Regions from separate parts of the Homo sapiens genome. Here all the other regions are linked to region 3. The links come from fine-mapping of genetic effects on gene expression. A gene starts in region 3. Each other region holds a variant in brackets. All regions are shown on one strand. Distances are between the middles of the regions.

Region 1 (5,144 bases), 35 kb after region 3:
GCGTGCAGAGCTGGGAGTGGTATAGCTGCAGGGGTGGCTGGAAGATCCCTGAACGCAGGGCGAGATGGAGGGGTGGGACTTTCCAGGTGTGTGTGGCACTCCCCACCCCTGCCTGGCTCCCCTCGACCCTCATATGACAGACTCCCCAAGGCCCCCACTCCCTCCACACTTGGGCAGGTGCCCTTCCTGGCCACCCTTCACCCGCAGCACTTAACACGTACACGATCTTTCCCTGAGCCCTGAGGGCCCTGATTTAAGATGCCAGAAATAAAAGTTAGGAATGAAAATGGGAGACCTTATCTTTATTCTTCCCCTTTCCGATCTCCTCTAGGCCCCGTGGCTTCCTGCCAACAGACAGATGGGAGACTGGGAAGAATATTTTGGTGGGAGGGAGTGGTGCTTGCAGGCAGATGGATACTGGCTCTACCTCTAAAACCTGTTGCTCTAACCTACTGAGCTGCTGTTCTCCACAGAGACTCCCAGGAGAGATAGGAGGAGCCAAGGATAGCTGCCTTCCCTGGCCAGAATCCAACCCTAAATGACACTTGGCATGTTAAAACACACTTGTCAAGGCCACAGGGTTCTGATGAATCTTGTTTTCTTCTTCTGCCCTGCTTTCTTCCAAAAAGGATTAGAGGCAGCTTACAAAAATTCATAAAATACAATAGGATAAAAATAGATCAGAGAGAAAACAACACTGGAACACATGGTACAATGAACCAAGAGGGTAGGACACAGAAATGTTCTTTGGCTGGGGCTCCACAATCCTCAAAGGTGGACTGCAAACAGGATTCTGAGCTTCGTATCAGTCAAAACAAAGAGGGAAATCTGCCGGTTTTGAGACTCACAAAGTCCACAAGATTAAAACCAACCCTGGCCGGGTGCAGTGGCTCATGCCTGTAATCCTAGCACTTTGGGAGACCAAGGCGGGTGGATCACATGAGGCCAGGAGTTCGAGACCAGCCTGGTCAACATGGTGAAACTCCGCTTAAAATTAGCTGGGCGTGGTGGCAGACACCTGTAATCCCAGCTACTAGGGAGACTGAGGCAGGGGACTCACCTAAGCCTGGGAGGTGGAGGTTGCAGTGAGCCGAGATTGTGCCACTGCACTCCAACCTGGGCAACAGAGCAGGATTCTGACTCAATTAAAAAGCAAAATAAAACACTCAACCTAGAAGCAGCGCAGCTATTTCTGACACTAAAGTCTGAGAGGAATTCTCGTGGGACCTTTGAAGGGATGACGGGTAGTGTCCCAAGCAACACCGTCAACGACAGTCCTTTTTTGTTTTAGAGACAGGGTCACTCAGTCTTGCTCCGTCTCCCAGGCTGGAGTGCAGTGGCGTGATCTCGGCTCACTGCAACCTCCACCTCCCGGATTCAAGTGATTCTCCTGCCTCAGCCTCGCGAGTAGCTGGGACTACAGGCTCACGCCACCACACCTGGCTATGTTTTGTATTTTTTGGTAGAGACAGGGTTTCACTGTGTTGGCTGGGTGGGTCTCAAACTCCTGACCTCAAGTGATCTGCCTGCCTCGGCCTTCCAAAGTGCTGGGATTACAGGTGTGAGCCACCGTGCCTGGCAAATTTTTGTTGTTTATAAGCCACCCAGATTGTGGAATATTGTTTATAGCACTCCAAATGGACTAAGTAAGACACAGATACAGTCACACAAACCCTATCAGCTGCTTTCTACAGAGTTACTCAGGATAAATTGAGGGTTTGATACCAAGGCACAGATCAGTAAAACCCACTCTATGGAGGGCCAGACCCACATGATCCAAGAGGCACAATTTAGATCCTCCCAGAGGAGGGTTTCTCAACCCAACACTATTGATATTTGGGGCTGGCTCATTCATTGTTACTGGGGACTGACCTGCGCACTGTAGTGTGTTTGCAGCATCCCTGGCCTCCGCCTGGTAGATGCCAAGCACTCCCTCAAATTGTGACAGTGGAAAATGTCCTCAGACCGGGCTCGGTGGCTCATGCCTGTAATCCCAGCACTTTGGGAGGCCGAGGCAGTTGGATCACTTGAGCCCAGGAGTTCAAGACCAGGAGTTCAAGACCTGGCCAACATGGTGAAACCAGATCTCTACAAAACATATAAAAAATTAGCCAGGTGTGGTTGTGTCCACCTAGTGCTCCCAGCTACTGGGGAGGCTGAGGTGGGAGGATGGCTTGAGCCCAGGAGGTTGAGGCCGCAGTGAGCCGTGATCACACCATGCACTCCAGCCTGGGCAACAGGGTGAGACCCTGTCTCAAAAAAAAAAGTCCCCTGACATTGCCAAATGCCCTATTAGGGGCTGAAAACCACTGCTCATAAAGGAGGAGTGAGCCACTTTCTTAAAAGGTTGGTGCAAAAGTAATTGAGGGTTGGGTACGGTGGCTTACGCCTGTAATCCCAGCACTTTGGGAGGCCAAGGAGGGCGGATCATTTGAGGTCAAGAGTTCGAGACCAGCCTGGCCAACATGGCAAAACCCTGTCTCTGCTAAAAATACAAAAATTAGCTGGGCGTGGTGGCGCAAGCCTATAACCACAGCTACTTGGGAGGCTGATGCAGGAGAGTTGCTTGAACCCGGGAGGCGGAAGTTGCAATGAGCCAAGATCATGCCACTGCACTCCAGGATCTGTCTCAAAAAAAAAGAAAAAAAAAAGATGTAATTGCATTTTTTGTCGTTAAAAGTAATGGCAAAATATAAAGACCAATTTAAGACAAATAAAAGTGTTTTCAGGGCCGGGCATGGTGGCTCATGCTTGCAATCCCAGCACTTTGGGAGGCTGAGGCAGGCGGATCACAGGGAGTTTGAGACCAGCCTGACCAACATGGCGAAACCCCGTCTCTACTGAAAATACAAAAATTCGCCGGAAGTGGTGGTGTGCGCCTGTAATCCCAGCTACTCATGAGGCTGAGGCAGGAGAATCGCTTGAACCCGGGAGGCAGAGGTTGCAGTGAGCCGAGGTCGTGCTACTGCACTCCAGCCTGGGCAGCAGAGTGAGACTCTATCTCAAAAAAAAAAAAAAACAAAAATAGTTTTTAGGTCACATTCTTTTCTTCAAAGCAAAAAAAAAAAAAAAAAAAAAAAAAAATTTATGCAGTCCCTTGAGGAAAAATGTATATACTTACATTTTTTAATTGCCTGCTTGATTGAGAAAATTGATACTTCCTATTAGCCAGTAAAATGTTTCTACATGGGT[A/G]TACTTGAGAAGTGGCTGTACCAAGGCAGCTTTCTAATTTTTCATCCTGAAGTCAGATCGAGGATTGTATTGAGAAGGTGGCATGGGCCAGAGGGCTTCTCCTTGCAGATCTAGAGTAGTGAGAGGACTGTGTCATCTCCTGGCTGACTTGAAGACAATCCTGCATCAATATCATTTCTCACAACCGTGGTTCTTCCCCAACCCTCCACCAAATCTGGGCTGACTGCAGAGAGTTTGCTGTTGTATTCTCTGAAAAAAAGAAAACTATAGTGCAGATTCCTTTATTCATCAGATATGTACTGAGCCCCTGCCATGCTCCAAGTACTCTGGGATGTGTTGGGAGGTATAACAGTAGGCAAAGCCAACACAGTCCCAGGGTGGCACTGTAAGTTGTGTGGACCCCTTCCTCCATAAAAATTGTGAAAATTATATTTATGACTCTGCTGCTATAAACCTACAGGTTTGCATATTTTCTTCTGTTTGTTGTTTTTTTTTTTTTTTTTAGAGGGAGTCTCGCTCTGTTGCCCAGGCTGGAGTGCAGTGGTGCAATCTTGGCTCACTGCAACCTCTGTCTCCTGGGTTCAAGCAATTCTCCTGCCTCAGCCTCCCGAGTAGCTGGGATTACAGGTGCGCCCCACCATGCAGGGCTAATTTTTGTATTTTAGTAGAGACAGGGTTTCACCATGTTGGTCAGGCTGGTCTCGAACTCCCGACCTCGTCATCTGCCCGCCTTGGCCTCCCAGAGTGCTGGGATTGCAGGTGTGAGCCACCACGCCCGGCTATTTTCTTCTGATTTTCAAATAAATTAGAACACGTTTGTGGGCCCCTAAAAGGGCAGAGGGCCCTGGCACTGTGTCTACTGAACTGTTGCCGAAGTCACCCGGATGGGCCTTGGCCTTAAGGGTTTGGGTTGGAGGGCTTGGGAAACAGACACTCAACAAGCAAGAAGATAAGTAAAAGCAGCAAACATGGTACTGATTTGAAGGAAACACACATCTAGATGCTGGGAGGGAGACTAACGCTCAGAGGGAGAATAACCCGGGGCCTCACTTTGGATAAGGTCACTGGGGGCTGGGTGTGGTGGCTCACGCCTGTAATGCCAGCATCTTGGGAGGCCAAGGTAGGAGGATTGCTTGAGCCCAGGAGTTTGGGCAACATAATGAGACTCCATTTCTGCAAAAAATAAGCTAGCTGGGCGTGGTGGTGCATTCCTGCAGCCCCAGCTACTTAGGAGGCTGAGGTGGGAGGATCACTTGAGCCCAGAAGTTGAGGCTGCAGTGAGCCATGATTGTACCACTGTACTCCAGCCTGGGGTACAGAGTGAGACCCTGTCTCACAGGTCATGGGGGGTAGGTGCTCCCTGAAGAAGTGGCATTTAAATCAGACTCAGAGGATGAGGAGTCCGGGAGGTGAATGGCGGGGACAAGCATGTTTAGAGAACCAAAGATTCACCTAGCTTTTGGCCTGAGTGTCTGGGCAGTTTCACTTTTTCTGAGCAGGAAAGACTGAGGGAAGAATGGATTTGGGGGAGTTTGAGTTTGATCTCAGATACATGGAAGCTGATTCAAATGGAAATGGCAAGCTGTTGTGAAGCGAGTGTTATGGACCAAATGTTTGTGTCCTCTCAAAACTCACACACAGAACCCTTAATCCCAATGTGATGGTATTAGGACTTGGAGGTCTTTGGGAAGTGATTAGGTTTAGGTGAGGTCCTGAGGGTGGAGACGCCATGATGGAATCAGTGTCTTTGTAAGAAGAGAATGAGGCCAGCGTTCAGTCTCTCTCTCCTCGCCTTGTAAAGACACAGCAAGAAGGTGGCCATCTGCCAGCCAGTAAGAGAGCCCTCCCTGGGAACAAAATCTGCCAGCACCTTGATCTTGGACTTCCTAGAACTAAGAGAAATAAGGGTCTGTTGCTTTTTTTTTTTTTTTTTTTTTTTTTGGAGTTTCGCT
Region 2 (5,144 bases), 42 kb after region 3:
TAGCTGGGATTACAGGCATGTGCCACCACGCCTGGCTCATTTTTGTATTTTTAGCAGAGACGGGGTTTCACCATGTTGGTCAGGCTGTTCTCGAACTCCTGACCTCAGGTGATCCACTTGCCTTGGCCTCCAAAAGTGCTGGGATTACAGGCGTGAGCCACCGCGCCCGGCCACTTCTTTCTTTCTTTTTTTGAGACGGAGTCTCCCTCTGTGGCTCAGGCTGGAGTACAATGGCACGATCTTGGCTCATTGCAACCCCCACCTCCCAGGTTCAAGTGATTCTCCTGCCTCAGCCTCCCAAGTAGCTGGGATTACAGGCGCCCACTACCACACCTGGCTAATTTTTGTATTTTTAGTAGAGATGGGGTTTCACCATGTAGGCCAGGCTGGTCACAAACTCCTGACTTCAAGGTGATCCACCAGCCTCAGCCTCCCAAAGTGCTGGGATTACAGGTGTGAGCCACCGCGCCCGGCCTGGAGCTGCTTTTCAGCCAATTCTAGATTCTGGCAGTTGGCTGCCGGATGTCCTTCTTTCATGCCTTCTCTAGAGAGTGGCCCCAGGACTTTGCAGCCAGAGGGCTCTTTCTAAAATGCAAATCTCGACCAGTGCAGTGGCTCACGGCGCTGGAGTAATTCCAGACCTTTGTAATCCCAGCCCTTTGGGAGGCCGAGGCAAGAGGATCACTTGAGGCCAGGAGTTTGAGACCAGCCTGGCCAACACGGTGAAACCTTGTCTCTGCTACAAATACAAAAATTAGCCGGGCGTACTGGAGCACACCCATAATTCCAGCTACTCAGGAGGCTAGGCAGGAGAATCGCTTGAACCCAGGAGGTGGAGGTTGCAATGAGCAAGACTGCACCACCACACTCCAGCCTGGGTGAGAGAGTGAGACTCCATCTCAAAAATAAAAAATAAAGTAAAAATGCAAATTTCAACAACATCGTAAAGTGGGCTTTCAGTGACTCCTCAAGGTCCCAGGTTTGAGGCCCTTCGCAAGCCTGGACCTCCCAGTCCCCCGAGCCACCCCCAGCAGCCAGTGTGCCAGATCTGATCCTATAGAACCAGAAGTGGTTTCCTAAACGCATGGCGGCGGCTGGAACCATTGTCCCCCTTCTGCCTTGACAAGACTCTACATGTCTATGCCTTTGTTTCACTTCCTCCCAGAAGCTTTCCTGCAACACCTAAGTGAGAGCTCAGCAGCCTTGTAGTAGCTCCGCCAGTGCCTTCTGATGTCACTGCCTGCTTATTGGTTACGTTCCTCTCTATACTAGTTTCCTTATTGTTGCTGTAACAAATTACCACAAATTGGCCGGGTACAGTGGCTCATGCCTGGAATCCCAGCACTTTGGGAGGCTGAGGTGGGCAGATCACTTGAGATCAGGAGTTCAAGACCAGCCTATCCAACATGGAAATGATCCCGTCTCTACTATAAAACAATACAAAAATTAGCCAGGTGTGGTGGTGCATGCCTGTCATCCCAGCTACTCAGGTGGCTGAGGCGCAAGAATCACTTGAACCCAGGAGGTGGAGGTTGCAGTGAGCTGAGATGGCACCACTGCACTCCTGCCCTGGTGACAGAGTGAAACTCTGTCTCAAAACAAAACAAACAAATAGAAAACACAAATTGCCACAAATCTGGTAGCTTAAAACTGTACTTTTTTGGCCAGGCATGGTGGCTCACGCCTGTAATCCCAGCACTTTGGGAGGCAGATCACGAGGTCAGGAGATCAGAGATCGAGACCACGGTGAAATCCCATCTCTACTAAAAAATACAAAAAATTAGCCAGGCGCGGTGGCGGGCGCCTGTAGTTCCAGCTACTCGGGAGGCTGAGGCAGGAGAATGGCGTGAACCCGGGAGGCAGCCCTTGCAGTGAGCCAAGATTGCGCCACTGCACTCCAGCCTGGGCGACAGAGTGAGACTCCGTCTCAAAAAAACAAACAAACAAACAAACAAACAAACAGCACTTTTTTTTTTTTTTTGAGACAGGGTCTGGCTCTGTCGCCAGGCTGGAGTGCAGTGGTTCAATCTCAGCTCGCTGCGACCTCCTTCTCCTGGGTCCAAGCCAACCTCTCACCTCAGCCTCTTGAGTAGTTGGGACTACAGGTGCAGGCCACCACGTCCAGCTAATTTTTGTAGAGATGGGGTCTCATTATGTTGCCCAGGCTGGTCTCAAACTCCTGAGCTCAAGCAATCCACCCTCCTCCACCTCCCAAAGTCCTAGGATTATAGGCATGAGCCACCATGCCTGGCCCACAAATGTAATATCTCACATTTTTAAAGGTCAGAAGGCCCAGATGGCTTTCACTGAGCTAAAATCAAGATGTGGGTAGGTCTGTGTTCCTCCTGCAGGTTTGAGGGCAGAATCTGTCTTTTCTACTTCTAGAGGCCACCCGCATTCCTTGGCTCATGGCCCCTTCCTCCAGCTTCAAAGCCAGCAGTACAGCATCTTCACATCTCTCTCTGTTTTTTCCTCTCTTCCTCTGTGTCTCTCCCTTCCTCTGACCCTGCCTCCTCATAAGGATCTTTGTGGTGCTATTGGGCCCACTCAGATAATCCAGAATAATCTTCCCATCTCAAGATTCTTAACTTAATTGCATCAGCAAGGTCCCTTTTGCCTTGTAAGGTAACACACCCACAGTTTCTGGAAATTAGGATGTGGGCATCTTTGGATGGGAGCACATTATTCTACCGAGTGCAATCTCCTAGGCAAGTGGCTGTGTCTTGTTTGTTCTGTGTCTTCCAGAGACGGCAGCAGTTAAAAAATACTTTTGAGCGAGTGAGTGAGTGAATGAGTGAGTGAGTGAGTGAGTGAGTGAATGAGTGAGTGACTGAGTGAATGAGTGGGTGAATGAGTGAACAAGTGGGTGAATGGATGAATAAGTGAGTGAATGAGTGAGGGAATGAGTGAGTGAGTGGATGAGTGAGTGAATGAGAGAATGAGTGGGTGAATGAGAGAATGAGTGAGTGAATGAGTGAGTGAGTAAGTGGGTGAGTGAATAAATGAGTGAATGAGTGAGAGAATGAGTGAGTGGGTGAGTGAATGAGTGAGTGAATGAGTGAGTGAGTGAATGAGTAAGTGGGTGAGTGAGTGAATGAGTGAGTGAGTGAATGAGTGAATGGGTGAATGAATGAGTGAATGAGTAAGTGGGTGAGTGAATGAATGAGTGAATGAGTGAGTGAGTGAATGAGTGAGTGAATGGGTGAATGAGTGAGTGAATGAG[T/C]GAACGAGTGAGTGAATGAGTGAGTGAATGGGTGAATGAGTGAGTGAATGAGTGAACAAGTGAGTGAATGAGCAAATGGGTGAATGAGTGAGTGAATGAGTGAATAAATGAGTGAGTGAGTGAAAGAGTGAGTGAATAAGTGAATAGGTGAGTGAGTGAATAAATGAGTGAGAGTGAATAAGTGAGTGAATGAGTGAGTGGATGAATGAGTAAGTGAATGAGTGAGTGAGTGAGTGAATAGCTCCCCAGAGGAGGGAGGGTAAGAGCCAGACGTGGGAAGCCAGAGGACTGTGGTTAAGGAGGAGGAGACCAGAGTGTGACCCAAGCTGCCCCACCTGCCACCTCTGCCACTTCGGCTTTGCGGACAGGCCGGGCCTGCAGCTGTGGGTGACAGGCTCCTTTCTCACAGGTCATGGGGGGCAGGGGCTGAAGCCTGTGGAGTTTCCCTCTGAGCCCAGGGAGGCTTTGGGCAGCCTCTGCTCAGCCTGGAGAGGCTCTGGGCACAGAACCCCAGGCAGGGCGGAGGATGACCTGAAGACCAAGTGAAGAAACGTCGCGGCAACAGTGGACAGGGAATGCTATCTGCACACCCCTTTGAGCAGGGCTGACTCCCTAAGCCCAAAATGTCCTATTTCCTTGATATTTGGACCAAAAGTAGAATCTGCATCCTACCTACTCAGGAACAAGCAAAGGCTCAGTAGCTGTCTTGGGCCTCAGGGGTCTGGGTGGTCTTCCCAGCCCAGGGGAGGTGGAGCCGTCTCCCACGCTTAGCTTGGTAGGCTGGAAGGAGCTGGCTTTGGGGCCAAGCAGACCTGAGCTTGTGGTCTTTAGGAAGCACATCTAAGCCTTTAGCCTCAGCTTTTTTCAGTTGTAGAAGAGAAAGAATAATAGCTCTCTTTGCAAGGTTTTGTGGGAATTAGAGAGAATACAACGTAAACAGTGAACCTAAACCAATTAAGTCCTAGTAACTGGTAGCAAAGGTTGGATTCTAGGCCCCCATTCCCACATCTACTGGCTATATAAGCTTAGGCAGTGGTTTCACTTCTGGGCCTTGATTTCCTTACCTATAAAACGGGTAGAGCAGCTTGGAAGTTTACCTTGAGAATGGGAGGAGCCTTGAATGAGAAGTGTGGGTGGTTTATTAGTCCTGTGGCTATTTCCAAGCCCCAAGGGGAAGTAGATGTCTTTCCCTGGGTGCAGGTGTCAGAACTGACGGACTCCTAGAGACTGAGTTCCTGCACAATGACAGAGCAGGACCATCCTGGCTGCAGGGCCTCCCTGCCCTGCACTTCAAGTGGCCACTGTGAAGCCAACAGCTGTCCCCTCCAAGTGGCATTCTTGGGGCACAAAGGGCGGTGGAGAGAGCAGGGAACACTGGCTCATTGTCCCTGGGACTGAGCAGCAGCAGCGGCGGGTGAGGGGCACCCCTCCTGACCTCCAGCCCCTCCCAACCCCGTGGCTATTCGGCTGCCAGGCCATCACTGCCGGATCTTACAGTAGCCCCCAGCAGCACCTGAAGCATCATGGGACCCCTTCCCCCATGGCATCTTTTACCAGGGGCCCTTAGGAATAATGCATTTTAAGAAGGGATAGGTCCAAGCGCAGTGGCTCATGCCTTTAATCCCAGCACTTTGGGAGGCCGAGGTGGGCGGATCACTTGAGGTCAGGAGTTCGAGACCGGCCTGGCCAACATGGTGAAACCCTGTCTCTACTAAAAATAAAAAAAGTAGCCAGGCATGGTGGCAGGCGCCTGTAATCCCAGCTACTTAGGAGGCTGAAGCAGGAGAATCGCTTGAACCTGGGAGGCGGAGGTTGCAGTGAGCTGAGATTTCGCCACTGTACTCCAGCCTGGGGGACAGAGCAAGACTCTGTCTCAAAAATAAAACAACAACAACAAAAACCACTCCTGTGACAGGCAACC
Region 3 (5,144 bases):
GTGGGTGGATTGCTTGAGCTCAGGAGTTTGAGACCAGCCTGGGCAACATGACAGAACCCTGTCTCTACAAAAGAAAAAGTACAAAATATGTAGCTGGGCATGGTGGCGCACACCTGTAGTCTCAGCTACTCAGGAGGGTGAGGTGGGAGGATCGCTTGAGCCCAGGAGGCCAAGGCTATAGTGAGCTACGATTGCAGCACTGCACTCCAGCCTGGGCAACAGAGCAAGACCCTGTCTCCAAAAAAAAAAAAGGGGCGGGGCTGGGGGGGACGTTAAGCTTGGAAACCACAGAAGCTGCTTTCCTTTTGTTCCCAGATAGCTGCAGTTTCACAACCCTGTTGACACAGGGTTTCCTTTGCTCCCCTTAGACGTACTGAGTAGGAGACAATGCATCATTGACTTTTTCTTCTATTCCCTTTCACATGTAAAATGTAGACTTACAGACACTAAATCAGAGCCTCACACGCTTGTGACCTCAATGCCTTTCCTCCCTCTCTCCCTCTTCTTTTCCTTTCCTGCTTGCTTTTTCTCTTTTAAATACAGAAGTTCCCAAAACCTTTTTGGAAAAAAGGTGATTTTTCCCCGGTGGATCCTCAACCTTGGCTAACTAAACCTCTATTTGATTGAGATCTGCCTTAGTCACTTTTTGGTTTACATCCATGATAACCCCGCCAGGGTTTGAATCCACAGTGTCTGCCTCCCAAGTGGCTCCAAACCCTACCTTTCCCTCCAGATGTCCAGTTCAGAATTTGATTTTACTTATTATTCATTTATTTTTTTTTTTGAGATGGAGTCTACCTCTGTCACCCAGGCTAGAGTGCAATAGCGCGATCTCGGCTCACTGCAACCTCCACCTCCCAGGTTCAAGCGATTGTCCCGCCTCAGCCTCCTGGGTAGCTGGGATTACAGGCGCCCACCACCATGCCCGACTAATTTTTGTATTTTTGGTAGAGATGGGGTTTCGCCATGTTGGCCAGGCTGGTCTCAAACTTCTGACCTCAAGTGACCCCCCACCTGCCTTGGCCTCCCAAAATGCTAGGATTACAGGCATGAGCCACTGCGCCCAGCCCAGAACTTAATTTTCACAGCAGGATGGAGTGGCCAAACCATTAGCTCTCAAGAGCTGGTTGCTGTCGCACTGCAGAGGGAAACGGAAATGTGCTGTCCCCAGAAAGCAGAATGTTCCTGAGGGCTTAGGGACCTCGCAGCCATGGGGAAAGTCTGGGGCCTTCACCCTCACTTCCTTTAAAAACCGAGGGTGGGGTTCAGCTAGAGGCAAGGGAACTTTTCACTTTGCGCCTTGTCCACTTTAGTTGACTACTTCGCAGCTGGCATTCTACCTTGATAATGATCATTTCAACTGAAACTATTCCTCTAAAAAGAATAGAGTCCAAGGCCTGGGACTTGGATTCAGGCTCTGGGACTCAGGAGTTGATCCTCCTTGACGTTCACCTGGTGCAAATTTAGCCTCAGCTGATACTTAGGAGGCAAAGGCACAGACGGGGATGCGGGGAGCTCAAGGGCTGTCACCCTGTAGAAACATTTCTGACGCCCAGTCCAAGCCTGGCCTCGGGGCTGGCCGGCTCCTCCCCGCTCCCTCGTTTACAGCGAGAGTCTGGGATGGCACCCACGAAGCTGGTGGCGCCAGCCCTCCTGCCCCATCTCCCGACAGTACTGCAGCCAGGTGGTTAGCAGGTCCGGGAGGGAGCAGGAACGAGGAACGCCACCCGGGCTGGAGTTCTTGGTTTCTTGCCCCGGCTCGAATGGGGAAGAGCCTCAAAAGAGCCTCGCGCCAGGCCCCCGGAGGGAGACGCGCCCCTGGCCCTGGGGGCCCCAGTGGGGGTTCGCGGCCGGAGCGCAGGCTGGGGCGGGAGTGTCTCCCGGAAGCCGGGCGGGCCCAGGCTGCCCCATACGGAGTTGGGAAAGTCTCAGGCTTTCAGTTTGAACCGAGGAGGCCGAGCAGTCGGGCAGAGGTTCCCGACGGCCATTGGCTGCTGCGGCGCCGTGACATCAGCGCAGAGGGGTGCGCGGGGAGGGTTGCGCGGGGCGGGCGCGGGCGGAGCCTGGAAGGGGAGTGTCCTGGAGGCTCCCAGCCCTGAAAGCCCGAGAGCCAGAGGGAAACAAACGCCGGCGCTGACAGGGGCCGCCAGCCCCTCCGCCGCGCGGAGCCCACGAAGGGGACAGCGCAGCCGGCCCAGAGCTCGGGTCTCCGGGGACCGAGGTAGGCGACGGGCAACCGCCTCTGTCTGTGGTAGCCGCCTTCGCGCTGGGTGCCCTGGGTGGGCTTGGGGGTCTCGAGTCCCCCTGTGGGGCAGAGAGGATCGAAGCTGGGGATGCGAGGCCGCGGCGCGGGGAGAAGGGCGCGGAGCCCCCACTTCTCGGCGCTCGCGCTTTTCACCGCGCCCACCGCGGTGCCTGGGACCCTAAGCTGCGCACCTAGTGTCCTGGCAGAGCGGGATGTGTGGAGGAGGAGGTGGCAGGGAGCCGGGCGCAGCGTTGCCGGGACTCCATTTCCTCTCTCCACGCTGGAACTCCCGGCCCTGGCCAAGGGTGCCGCTGAGGGGGTTGGGGGCCGGTTTTAAAGGGCCTCCCCCTTCCCAGGAATGGGGTGTGTGTCGGTGTGGGCAGGAGCGCAGCAATCGGCGGCGCGCGGCCCGCGATCTCCGCGAGGGGGGCGTGTGTGCGCCCGGAGTTCTCCATGAATAAGAACCGAATTCTCCGCCTGTACGGGCAGAGGCGTGTACACATCTCGCTCTCGTACACACACTGCAGCACACGCCACCCAATGTCACCCGGCCGGGAAGCCAGAGGGAAGGAGCTGTCTGGAAGGGAATGGCCGAAGGAACAAATGGTCCTCCTTTCCCCTACTCCCGCCCCGCGAACCCTTCCCTCCCCCGCCAGGCTCCCGCCCCGCCCGCTCCCTCGGAAGCCCGGGAGGCCGAGGCGCCTCCTGGCGGGGTGCGGGGGGAGGGCAGTCGAGCCACCCGCCCCCTTGGAGCCGGGGAGACGGCCGCTCCTGGGCTAGTGCGCCCCGAGCTCAGCGCGCTCAGCGGGATCGCAGGCGGGAGCGGTCGGTTAATGATTTAATCGCCCGCTTGGGGCGGGTGCGCGCGGATCGGCCGTCCCTGGCCCCGCCCCCTCTCCGGAGCGCCCCCAGCCGGGGTTACAAAACTGCCCCCTGCCCCCGGCGCGTCCCCCAGGAGCCATCCTGCCCGCGGGGATCCCGTCAGCCGGTGAGTGCCCCGGCCGGGAGGGCTGGAGAGCTGGGCGGGAGCCGGGGCTGAGGCTGAGCCAGCTTCCTGGGAGAGGACTGAAGTGCGTGTGTGTGTGTGTGTGTGTGTGTGTGTGTGTGTGTGTGTGTGTGTGTGTGACTGGGGGAGGGGTGCTCGCTGCTAACTCAAACCAGGTTCCCTGTGTTTTCCCAGTGACTGCGGCCTCGGCTTTGGAAGTTTTCTTTTTCTCCCTGGGAGAATGGAGGGGAAATACAATGCCTTTTCTTTTCTCGTTGCCTCTGGAACTTCTCTCTCTCCACGACTCCCACCCCTTGCAATCTGACCGGCTCCCACATCCCTTACTGTGTGCCCGGTGCCCACTGTTTGCCCAGATAGCTGAGCAGCTGGATCCGGGTGGAGTCCTTGGGAGCCCCCGTCGCTGCGAAGCCCCCTGCCCTCCCCTGAGGGTCCAGGGTGCTGGAGGGAAAATCTCTCTCTCGTCCGAACCCCAGCAGCCATCTGTACCAGAGAAATGTCCCATCCAGCGAGTGTAAATAATGAGGGGCCGGTGACAGGGGCCTCCTGCAAGGCGACTTCTTTGGCAGTCTGGGTTTCCAATAACTCCCTCAGCCCCCGCCCGCTTCTGAGGCTAGGGTGGAGGAGGGACCACCAGCAGGGTGGACTGAATTTTAAGAGAACAAAGAACAGGCCACAAAGGAAGGGATTGCTGAGCTGCGGATTTCTGATTTCTCCCAGAAATCGGGAGTTGGCTGGGACTGAGCCAGGCCCTAAGAGAGCCCCTGGCAGCCCCAGGGGCTCCTGGGGCAATAACAGGGCATCCACCAGGATCTCCTGAGGCTCTATCTCTGCTGAGAAGCCAGTGCCTACTGAATGCGGGGGTGCCCTGCCGGTTCCTGCTCTCATCAACTGCCCTGTGTGAGCTGCACATGTGACTGACTGATTAGTGGGGTGGCTTATCTCCTCTGAACTTGGACTTTGCCTCTCCACTCCTTGAAGACAGCTGCTCCTTCCCACAAGGGGTGTTCAGTGAATTTGGGGAGATCCCAAGTGGATTCCCAGGCATCCTGGTGGACCCCTGCAGGGACTAGGAGGGGCCCGCTGTGATCATATGGGCGGTGGTTCTGGGGTGAGTCTCAGCGCCTCCCCTCTGAAATCTCCCTGAAGTCCTAGGGTCCCTGCACACAGAGGGCAGCTTGCTCCTGCTCTGCTGTACAGCCTAGGCCTGTGCTGTGAATGATTCTCCATTTTCTGGGGTTTCTGCCTCTCTCTTTTTGGATTCCTCTTCTCTTTTCCCCTCGTTTCTCTCTTTCCCTTGCCCACCCACCGTGCTTGTCCCCATCCTCTGTACCCTGCCTCCACTGTGCTGCTGCCTCTGGAACCCGACAGCACCTCACAGAACCAGAGACCAAGGAGTCAGAAGCAAAGGGAGGTCTCATGTATAAAGGTCAGGGGAGTGAGTGTTGACCTGGGAGAGGAATCTTACACCAGTCTTTTGATTTTAAAAATAATTTTTATTTTATTTATTAATTTTTTGAGACCAGGTCTTGCTCTGTCACCCAGGTTGTGGTGCAGCGTCATAGTCAAGGCTCACTGCAGGCTGGACCTCCTGGGCTCAAGCTATCCTCCCACTTCAGCCTCCTGAGTAGCTGGGACTACTGGCGCCCACCACCACGCCCAGCCATTTTTTGTATTTTTTGTAGAGGTGGGGTTTCACCATGTTGCCCAGGCTGGTCTTGAACTCCTGAGCTCAAGGGATCTTCCCCCACCTCGGCCTCTCAAAGTGCTGGGCATACAGGTATGAGCCACTGCACCTGGCCAACCCTTTTTTTTTTTTTTTTTTTTGGAGACAGAGCTTTGCTCTGTTGCCCAGGCTGGAGTGCAGTGGCACAATCTTGGCTCACTGCATCCTCC
Region 4 (5,144 bases), 27 kb after region 3:
GCAGGGTTATACCATGGATTGCTGGCTTATTTCACAGCATTTAACTTTGGTAGGAGCGCTGGGGTTTAAATGACAGTCCCCTGGCAAAGAGGCTTTTGTGCCGTGTGGCCAGCCCGCGTTAATCCTTTGCCTCTCATTCTCTGCTTGCAGCCTTATGATCTCCTCATTGCGTCCCCCTCTGCCCACTGGACTTGGACTTCAGATCTGACCCCAGACCTGCCGGCTACCTCGGGAGGGCCCACCTCCCCGCCCATCCAGCAAGATGCCAATCCTCAAGCAACTGGTGTCCAGCTCGGTGCACTCCAAGCGCCGTTCCCGAGCGGACCTCACGGCCGAGATGATCAGCGCCCCGCTGGGCGACTTCCGCCACACCATGCACGTTGGCCGGGCCGGAGACGCCTTTGGGGACACCTCCTTCCTCAATAGCAAGGCTGGCGAGCCCGACGGCGAGTCCTTGGACGAACAGCCCTCTTCTTCATCTTCCAAACGCAGTCTCCTGTCCAGGAAGTTCCGGGGCAGCAAGCGGTCACAGTCGGTGACCAGGGGGGAGCGGGAGCAGCGTGACATGCTGGGCTCCCTGCGGGACTCGGCCCTGTTTGTCAAGAATGCCATGTCCCTGCCCCAGCTCAATGAGAAGGAGGCCGCGGAGAAGGGCACCAGTAAGCTGCCCAAGAGCCTGTCATCCAGCCCCGTGAAGAAGGCCAATGACGGGGAGGGCGGCGATGAGGAGGCGGGCACGGAGGAGGCAGTGCCCCGTCGGAATGGGGCCGCGGGTCCACATTCCCCTGACCCCCTCCTCGATGAGCAGGCCTTTGGGGATCTGACAGATCTGCCTGTCGTGCCCAAGGCCACGTACGGGCTGAAGCATGCGGAGTCCATCATGTCCTTCCACATCGACCTGGGGCCCTCCATGCTGGGTGACGTCCTCAGCATCATGGACAAGGAGGAGTGGGACCCCGAGGAGGGGGAGGGTGGTTACCATGGCGATGAGGGCGCCGCTGGCACCATCACCCAGGCTCCCCCGTACGCCGTGGCGGCCCCTCCCCTGGCAAGGCAGGAAGGCAAGGCTGGCCCAGACTTGCCCTCCCTCCCCTCCCATGCTCTGGAGGATGAGGGGTGGGCAGCAGCGGCCCCCAGCCCCGGCTCAGCCCGCAGCATGGGCAGCCACACCACACGGGACAGCAGCTCCCTCTCCAGCTGCACCTCAGGCATCCTGGAGGAGCGCAGCCCTGCCTTCCGGGGGCCGGACAGGGCCCGGGCTGCTGTCTCAAGACAGCCAGACAAGGAGTTCTCCTTCATGGATGAGGAGGAGGAGGATGAAATCCGTGTGTGAGGCGGACAGTGGGTGGCCACCGGGAGCTCTTGGCTGCATCTTCTCCCTGCCCCCACCCCACTATGACCTTTGACCCTACGGCGCAGGGGCAGCCAGGACCCTTGATTCAGACCATGGACCCTGGACCTTGTAGATGAGGGACACTGGCCTGGCCCTCGGGTCTTCGGAGGACGTAGGGGGCTGGCATGGGTGCCGACTGGCTGCCTGACTTCATCATGCTCCCTGCACTTAGGCTGCGTGGGACAAGGGCTGTGTTGTCACAGCAGGAATAGGTTTTCCTCTGTTGGCCTCCCTTTCCTCCACCCTGGCCTCAAATGGATGCCAGATGCCAACCCCAGTTCTGGCCACGTACAGCCAGCGGGTCAGCCCAGAGGCAGCCTCAGCTCCAGGGCTAAGGACTCTCGGCTCCCATTTTCTCTGCTGGCGTTTCTGCTGTGCCCAGCAGTGGCTGCTGGGGAAGCAGCTGCAGCAGGAGGGAGACGGTCTTGCCTCTCAGCCCCTCCCTGCCCCACCCCAGCTCCTGCCCTGGAAATCTGGAGCCCCTTGGAGCTGAGCTGGACGGGGGGCCAGCTGCGAGCATGTGCACTAAACGCAGCCCTTTCCAGGGGAAGAGAACAGGATGGAGAATGGAAGGAAAGCCCCCCAGGCTTCGTGAATTGCAAGAAGGGACCCTTCCAGGATGACACTAGGAACAGGGCTAGGGCACTCGCTCAGTCCCTAGGGGCTTGTTTGTTCTTTATTATTGTGTTTAAATCCTTATAGAGCAATATCAGGATGGTGTTAATAGGTCTGCCTCAGAATGAGAATCAATCCTTTTAGAAAACCTTTATACTAAGCCTCCTCTTC[A/G]AAATTCACAGTGGCGATTAGCGGACTGGAGTCTGGTGGCGATTAGCGGACTGGAGTCTGGGGACATCCGTGGCAAAGACACCAGCTCAACTTTAGTGCTTCCCAACTTTATTTAGAATGACATGGGGTGGGTGTCTGGTGTGTGTGTTTTCCCTACGCACCTCCCATAGCTATTAACAACTGAGGAAGGCCAGTGCAGAATATTTTTGGAGAACGATTTTTTTTTTAAATAATATATCATTCCTATGGGGGGAAAGCCTTTTTTTTCTTTTTGGCTGAGTTATTCCCTCCCTCCCCTCAATACCCTCAGTACTGACTACTTCCCTTTCTTTTCTCAGGCCTCCCCCCACCGACTTTTGAGGCCAGGGTTGGCCAGATTTAGCAAAACCAAAACAGAGTGCTGAGTTAAACGCAAATTTCAGGTAAACAAAAGATAATTTTCTAGCATTAATATGCCCCACGCAATATTTGGAACACTTATGTGAAAAATGATTTGTTTTTCTGAAATTCACGTTTCTCTCTGAGTCCTGTAACTGTCCCCGAGGGGATTGAGCAGAAGCTCGGGTATGAGCCCTGAGGTTGACTGCCGGTTATTTTTCTGTCCTGGGAACAGCCTGACCCACCTCCCTGTCTCCATGTAGCCAGTGAGGGGAGGGGGAGACACAGAACCAACCACAGCCAGGGGCGTCCCCATGGCGACTGTGGCCCGGCCCCTCCTCTCTTGCCTGACTCTCCTCTCTTGCCTGACTCTAGACACTAACTTAGTTCCAGGTTCGGTGCCCTGTTGGTGCTCCTGTTTCCAATAGCTTAGGTCCCATGGTGGGGGAGGAACCTCAGGGGCTATGCAGCCCCCGCCAGCTGCCCTCGAATCCCGTCCAGGCCAATTCCAGATTCTAAACTGATTTTTTTCATGATATTGTCAAAACAGTGAGGAAACATTAAAAAAAAAGCCCTAAAGCACGCCTGGTGTCTGTCTCTGCTTTTTGGGAGGGCTATTTCAGGATGGGGGTGGGGTCTGGACCCAGGTCCTAGAGCTGTCCAGGGGGGCCTGAGGTGGCTTCTGTCTCTCTGTCCGTGAGGACCCGCCCTTCCTGCGATGCTGTCTGCCTGGGCAGGCCCCTTCAGAGTCTGGGGACTCAGGTGTCCCTAACTGCCATCTCTTGGAAGCCCTTGGCACTTGGTCGCTTAGCTGTTCTGTGCCTCCCTCTCCTGCTCTGTAAAATGGGTATCCTGCCACTCTTAGAGGGTTGAGGCACAGAAACAGTGACATGGGCTTTTTGTGGGGGAGGGGGTTGGTTTTTTGTTTTTTTTTGTTTTTTTTTTTTGTTGTTGTTGTTTTGTTTTTTTTGAGATGGAGTCTCACTCTGTCGCCCAGGTTGGAGTGCAGGGGTGTGATCTCAGCTCACTGCAACCTCCGCTTCCTAGGTGCAAGCGATTCTCCTGCCTCAGCCTCCCAACTAGCTAGGATTACAGGCGTGCGCCACTACACCCAGCTAATTTTTGTATTTTTAGTAGATACTGGGTTTCACCATGTTGGCCAGGTTGGTCTCCAACTCCTGACCTCAAGTGATCCGCCCACCTTGGCTTCCCAAAATGCTGGGATTACAGGTGTGAGCCACCGTGCCGGTCGACATGGGCTTTTTATACAGTTGTGATTAGGATGAGAGTGACTGTGTTCTCCCCAGCCCCCTGGTGTCCTGGTGCACGGAACTGTCACCACCAGAAAGTGGCTGGCCCTGAAGGCAGTTTCTGCATGATGCTGGGAGCGGGGCTACCACCTCCTCTTTCCCCTTTTACCGTTAAGCCTGGAAAATCAGCTTACAAGTGGCAGGTCCTCAGTTCAACCTCACTTCTCAGGGAGATAGAAGCTCCACATCCCCATTTTCCAGATGGAGAAAGATGATCAGATAAGCCTCGAGGCCGCCTTCTCTAATGCCCAGAATTCATTCAAAACTCCTGCCCTTCTCACCCCACCACTCCTGGGCACATCAAAACCTCGGGATATAAAGTCAGGGGGTGAGGGTCTAGTGGCCCCTGAACCCACTGCCCTGCCCCTGCCCTACCACCTCCTTCCCTTGAATCATGTTCCCCTCTTTCTGGACAGCTTCAGAAGGGAGCCCTGGTCTGCGTAGGGCTGGCTCACTGCTTGTTGAAGCCCCCGCTTGCTCTCAGGAAATCTGGGGAAATCTTGGGGATCTCAATGTGGCTGAGTTCCTGGTGGAAACCCTGCACTCTCCCCTGAGCACCCACAGAGAAATGTGAGTTCCCCACTCATCTCCCTGGAAAGCAATTAGAGGCATAATTAAAATGTCACTCAGGTCCCTCCCTCTGTCCCTAGACAGGCTCATTCGTGTGGGAGTTATGAGCGGGGACTTCTGGCTGCCCCAAGGGAAGAAGAGAGAGGGAGGAGAGCTGGGGCCCATTGGGAGACGGGTCCCTAGGGGCTACAGTCTAGCTCAGGGATGACTGGGGAGAGGAAGGTACTGTTCAGGCGAGGACCAGGCAGATGAGAAGGGGCTGTGCCTCCCAGACACAGTGCAACCTCCCAAGAGAGAGAAATGACTGTACCTACACCGACTAACCAGGGACTCCCTAGGGGCCCAGAGAAACCAGCCGCCCCGAGCCCCAGAATCTGTTTCTTGACCATTGATGGAAAAGCTCTGAGCATTCAAGAAGACCCGGGGACCTGGCTTGATTCACAGCTTTAAGGAGCATACCTTCTGGCTGGGGGTTCAGTGGACCCAGGAGACAAGGATGAGATGAACACGCAGAACCAGCCAGGCCACAGAGCTCTGTTAAGATTTGCTGGGAGCCAGGCGCCGTGGCTCACACCTGTAATCCTAGCACTTTGGGAGGCTGAGGCAGGAGGATCCCTTGAGACCAAGAGTTTGAGATCAACTTGGGTAACAGCGAGACAACATGTCTACCAAAAAATAATTTTTTTTTTTTGAGATGGAATCTCGCA

Direction of the effects. Alleles are on the strand shown, and positions count from the first base shown. SD is a standard deviation of normalised expression in the study named. Not every link is listed here.
As copies of G replace A in region 1, the expression in monocytes after R848 of the gene that starts at base 2,113 in region 3 goes up (large effect, 1.7 SD a copy in Quach 2016).

The links. PIP is the estimated chance that this variant, and not a neighbour inherited with it, causes the effect. A credible set is the group of variants that fine-mapping cannot tell apart.
Region 1: its variant is the best candidate, but not a certain one, in a credible set for the expression of CDC42EP4 in monocytes after R848 (Quach 2016, PIP 0.86).
Region 2: its variant is the best candidate, but not a certain one, in a credible set for the expression of CDC42EP4 in whole blood (INTERVAL, PIP 0.89).
Region 4: its variant is the best candidate, but not a certain one, in a credible set for the expression of CDC42EP4 in whole blood (INTERVAL, PIP 0.82).

What each region holds. Positions count from the first base shown.
Region 1 is chr17:73,273,987-73,279,130 of GRCh38, reverse strand. No RefSeq gene overlaps it. Among named protein-coding and RNA genes, the nearest start is that of CPSF4L, 15 kb to the right of the region's middle. The variant A/G (reference allele first, on the strand shown) is at 3,193.
Region 2 is chr17:73,267,269-73,272,412 of GRCh38, reverse strand. No RefSeq gene overlaps it. Among named protein-coding and RNA genes, the nearest start is that of CPSF4L, 8.0 kb to the right of the region's middle. RefSeq lists an enhancer at 915-1,264. The variant T/C (reference allele first, on the strand shown) is at 3,224.
Region 3 is chr17:73,308,970-73,314,113 of GRCh38, reverse strand. It overlaps CDC42EP4 (CDC42 effector protein 4), which reads left to right and starts at 2,113. Exons shown (of 2, transcript NM_012121.5): 1 at 2,113-2,221. RefSeq lists silencers at 1,735-1,894, 1,965-2,224, 2,675-3,224, 3,235-3,364.
Region 4 is chr17:73,281,619-73,286,762 of GRCh38, reverse strand. CDC42EP4 (CDC42 effector protein 4) reads left to right here. Exons shown (of 2, transcript NM_012121.5): 2 at 151-3,139. The coding sequence starts at 263. The coding sequence ends at 1,333. Among named protein-coding and RNA genes, the nearest start is that of CPSF4L, 22 kb to the right of the region's middle. RefSeq lists enhancers at 1-348, 349-904, 1,460-2,016, 4,869-4,998. The variant A/G (reference allele first, on the strand shown) is at 2,180.